Linked DNA regions of Homo sapiens: region 2 is linked to region 1. Evidence: fine-mapped expression QTL. A gene starts in region 1. The other region holds a variant in brackets. All regions are shown on one strand. Distances are from middle to middle.

Region 1 (2,500 bases):
TCCCTCCTTCCCCTATCTGTAGGAGGCTTGCAGGTGTCCAGCTGTCCTTTCGCAGTAGACACATGGTGGTCTCAGGAGCTAACATCGGCCCTTCTACAAGCCAGGGGGACACCAAACACTTGCCTGTCAATCGAGCTCCACTCAGCTGGGTTCAGACAAGCTCAGGGGCTACCCCAGGCTCAGCAGTGCCGACTATAGCCTTGTGCAGTTACTGCTGCACACACGTGAGGACACACAGGAAGGGTACGCATTTGACACAAGCTTCCCATGGAAATACCTTCTCAAACCTGGAGCAGGGTGAGAATGTTGCAGCCCTGGGCCCCTCCTGGGTCAGAAGCTGGCTCAGCCCAGCGTTCACAGAGGCCAGCCTCCCAGAGCCTGAGAAGAGGCCTGCACCAGGCGTGGGCACAGAAGGATGCAGATTGTGCAACAGGAGCCAAGGGCTGGAGAGGCATTCTGGCGAGAGATTTGGAAAGCTTCTGGAACAGGGTGAAACATTCATCAGGTGACCCAGGGGATAGGCTCTCCAGGAAGGAGGCCCAGCTCCAGCAGTAGCCAGAGTTCTGGGCATGTTAGGACGGTGAGGTCCTAGCACGCGGGGGGCGGGGGGCACAGGACAAGGTGTGCGGCAGTGCAGGAAGCCAGCTGAGGCACCCTGACCCTCAGGCCATGCCCTTCTGCTCCTGTGCAGGGGACAGCAGAGGGGAGCTTGGGGACTGACATCTCAAAGGCCTGGTCCCCTCCTTGCTCTCGCAGCCAGTCCTTGCTCTAGGACAGTGACCCATGTCTGCAGCCCGACCCAGCCCACCCACAGAGCCCGGCGTCCCAGAGCTGCTGGGGTGCACGGTGGTCGGGAGGTGAGTGGCTGGGCAGTCCTCCGCAGGGCTGCTGCCAGGTATCAGCCTCGGAGGTTTCCCGGAAACAGAGCCAACGCCCCCCCAAGACCTGGGCAGACCGCATGAGCGTAGGGGTCAGGGGACCGGGTCCCCCAGAGGTGTCAGAAAAATGCTCCCAGGAGGAGGACGCCAGGCTGCTGAGGCCTGTGGCTGACACCAGGGGGCAGGGCGGGGCGGCGGGGACAGCGTCCGGAGGAGGGAGCCGCCCAGACCTAGCCCGGGTGGGGCGAACGAAGAGCGGGCGTGGTGGGCGCCTGCTAGCTCCGGCTCGCGGTGTTAGGCCTTGGGGACATCGCTCGGGGACAGGAGAGCCCCGGGCCCCCGCCGCCCCGAGCCGTGGCCGGGAAGGGGAACACAGTCCATGCGTGCGGCGCCCGACAGCCTCTCCCCGCACGCCCGAGCCCCAGTGCAGGCGGCGGCCCGGCCCCTTTGTGCCTGGAGTGTCACGCGCGGGCGCTCCTGCCGCCGCGCCTGGGAGAGGCCTCCGGCACCCCGGGCCCCTTTCCAAGCACAACAGCAGCCCTGCCGCGGCCCCGCGCTGACCCACTTTCCCTCCTGCCTCCTCAGCCCGAGGCCGAGAATCCAGCGGCCGCCGCCAAGCAGGTGCGAGCCGTCGGGCGGGGCGCGCGGGAGGCGGAGAGGATGGGCCCCTGAACCACCCCGCGCGCCCCACCTCAGCCTCCCGGGGCGAGCCAGGTTTCCGGGGCGGGGGCCGCGAGGAGGAGGAGGAGGGCAAGGCGGGGGAACGGGAGGGAGAGGACCCGGGGAGGGGGAGGGGGAGGCGGAGGGGAAGGGGGAGGCGGAGGGGGAGGGGCAGAAGAAGGGGGCAAGGAGGGCAGAGAGATGAGCGAGAAAGAAAGGAGGGGTGCGGGAAAGGAGGAGAGGAAGGAGCGGTGGGAGGAGGAGGAGGGGTGCGGGAGAGAAGGGCTGAGGGAGAGGCGGAGGGAAACCGCACCCCTGCCTCTTTCCTGGGCCGAGGCCAGCCGGGGAGGAAATGTTGAAATGGGCGAAGTGCACATCCGCCTCCAGGCCTAAGGGGTGTAGGGGTCAGGCCGCACCGACCCCGCCCTTCCCAGCCCTTCCTGCCAGACCTCTGCCTCCGATGGGCGAGCCCGGTTGCTGGGAGGCGGTTCGCTGTGGAGCCTGGACCCTCTCCACAGTTCAGCCCGCCGGAGGCGTGTGCGCTTCCAGATGAGAGCACTTGTTCACTGAATGACCGTGCGTACTTGGGGGGACATCTGGCCCCAGAACCTCCAGGAGCAGGGTGGCTAATGCTGAGTGCCGTGGCCTGGCACTGGGAAGCGCCGGTCCTCAGTCCCTTTCCCTGCTCCTGGGCATCCCAGGCCCCTTGGGGCGTTCTTACACTGCCTGAGTTAGACCTGGAAGAGTCCCCTGTGCCAGGGCAGGGGCTTTGCCTGCTTGGTCCTTGTTCACCCCTGTGTATAGCTACTACCTATTACCTACCCACCTGTCCACAAGTGTCAGTGCCTGATGTAGGAAGTTACAGTAATTCACAAATAAATCTATCACAAAGGGACATGGATACTCACACTTCCTTCTTACCCCTACTTCCAGGCAGCCATTGTTAATGGGTGCGTGTGTAC
Region 2 (2,500 bases), 48 kb after region 1:
GGACTTAGGTGGGTCAGTCCAGTGGGGAATCATGGGCTGGCTGTGGTCTGAGGGGCAGCCCACAGGAGTCCAGGCAGAGGAGGGTCTGGAGGTGGGAGCTGCAGGAGCCCTGAGTCAGCACCACGGGGCATCTTCACCAGCTCATCCCCAGCCTCTCCATGTATGGCCCAAAGCTGGCATTTCTGATTTCCAGACTCTGCCTCCTGGCACCCACGGTCTTTGTGGATCCCAGAGAGGCTCACCCTGGGACTCAGAAGAGGTGTGCTGTGGAGAGGAAGGAGGCCGAGGCAGCCTGGGGGAGGAGGAAAAACCCAGCATTGGGGGTGTGAAGACCCGTTTAGCTTTCAAACTGGTTCCAAAGATTTGTTCAGGAATTACTCCAGGGGAGGAGTCACCCCTGTCTTTGGGGATGTCTCTGGCGTGTTAAGAGTTTCAGGTAGGATTTTGCTTGGGGAAAAAAGTTCTTCAATATACACACACACACAGACACACACACACACACACATACACACACGCAAAAACAACCAGGGGCAAGTTAATATCTAAGCTCTCTTTCTAGTGCACATAACAGTGACCTATCACCAGTTCCTCCTGGATCCTGGGTAATCCTTTATGGACAGGGACCTTATTTTACATTGTACCCTCAGGGTACAGCCTGGTGTGGCAGGCAAGCCCTTGATGACTGTTTACTGTCCAAGCTGAACACCTGAAGGGGTCACACTACAGGCCAGGCTTGTAGACATCCGACAAAAATCAAGAAGCCTATCTGGCCCTAAATCTGTTGCTGTTCATCCATGTCACACATATCACATGCAAACAAGGCTGCATTGAGATTCTGGAAGGCAAACACACGGCCATATGCCATCTTCTCTGGGCATAGTAAATCAGGTTCTGGGGTGCATGTATATGAGCCCCACACCTTCAGCGCCTCTCAGCACTTTCCTGGGGTCTGATCTTTCTGATCCGGATGAGGTGACTTTGCCCCAGCTACGCTGGATTAGCGCAGGGATGTGCACTTGACCAACCAAAGCCCCCTCCTCAGGAGTGCAGAACTGGCCCCAGGAGATCCTAGCTCACTTTACCGAGACATAAACTTGGGGGGATTTGGGACAGTCATTTCCCATGGCAGGGTCTGGGAGCACAGGGCATCTGTCTGCAGAGGAAGGAGCTCCAAGCCAACGCAGAGAGAGTTTGAGGTGATTCTGCTGCACCCTCCCCAGGGCTCTCTGGAGCTCCAGCGTGGCTTCCTTGTCTCAAGTTCCTCTTTCAGTGTAAAGTCAGCTAGAATTGGTGACTTGCAAAAGACCTGAATCATGCACTGACCTTTTGGCAGGCCCTCTCTTGCTCTAGAGAATCTGGCCTAAGCATGCAGACTCTGGAAATTTATCCCACAGCACGTGCATAGTTTTCGATGCGTCATTTACCCAATGAGGCTGAACCTGGAATT[G/C]GACTTCTACCTGCCCGTCCTTTCCAGGTTTTAACTATGTCCTAGCTCTCTTGACTTGAGCTGGGAAATTCCCTATGCCACTTAGACTCTGCAGCTCAGCTCAAAGGCCCTGATGTGATGCCCCCCTGAAAGCCAGGGCAATCCCACCTCTGCAATGCTGCCGCCGCCACCCTGCCATCTTCCCGAACCTCTGCTCTCAGCTTGTCTCTCCCCAGCCTGGGTCCTGAAAAGGTTCCACTGAGCACAGTGCCTGCTCCCAGCCATCTGTCTTGCCCTCAGCTGTGTGCCAGCCACATGCTAGCCAGGCCCGGCCTGTCCTGCTCTCGCCCTGTTCCCTCCCTGGCTGATTCGAACCCCACACTCCCCTCCCCACCCAGCCAACATCTGGGGACTGCTTCTTCGGGGACCAGCCCCACTGTGTCTTGTCTGATCTCCACGTGTTTCTGCAGTGGCCCTTTCCTGGGTGACCCGTCTGCTCAGAGCAGAAACTGAGATGGGCAGGCCTGCGCCACCTTCCCCTTGGCGCCTTTCCAGTGCTGAGTGTTCTGCCTGGCACAAAGCCAGGGTTCCGCAAACGCTGGTTGAACCGAAACCCACTGTGGTTGCCGGTTCCTGAGCTGGTCTTTCTTCTCGTTCCCATGCCCAGCTCCCAGCCACGAACTGTGGGCTGATCCTGTGGCCGGCTCCCTGTCCTGTGGCCCAGAGAGTGTCTTCGGCTGGGGATCCTGCTGTCGGGGCCCTGCTGTGCCTGCTGCCAGGGCCTCACCAGCCTGCTCTGAGCAGCTGGGCCACACTGAGCACCTGCCCTGCCCTGCTTGGCAGTCAGGAAGGACTTCCTGTTTCTGCTTCTGAAATGGACTGCCAGCTCCAGGGGGCGGCAGGGGACCGGCCCCAACACCCCTGCCATCCGAGTGGCACCTAGGCTGCCCGGCAGCCCTCCCTCACCCCTTCTTGTGTCTCCTGCTATGGGTGGGCTTCAGGAAACGTGCACTTAGCAGGCTGAGGCCTAAACTCAGCTATGGGCTTAGGATCCAGAGGAGGAGCCCTGGAGAG

Evidence for each region.
Region 2: its variant is fine-mapped to the expression of LINC02352 in whole blood (INTERVAL, PIP above 0.99).

The regions. Positions count from the first base shown.
Region 1 is chr15:31,214,539-31,217,038 of GRCh38, forward strand. It overlaps LINC02352 (long intergenic non-protein coding RNA 2352), which reads left to right and starts at 1,483. Exons shown (of 2, transcript NR_135834.1): 1 at 1,483-1,499. It overlaps LOC124903454 (a long non-coding RNA gene), which reads left to right and starts at 1,776. Exons shown (of 2, transcript XR_007064556.1): 1 at 1,776-2,500.
Region 2 is chr15:31,262,151-31,264,650 of GRCh38, forward strand. No RefSeq gene overlaps it. Among named protein-coding and RNA genes, the nearest start is that of LINC03034, 33 kb to the left of the region's middle. The variant G/C (reference allele first, on the strand shown) is at 1,448.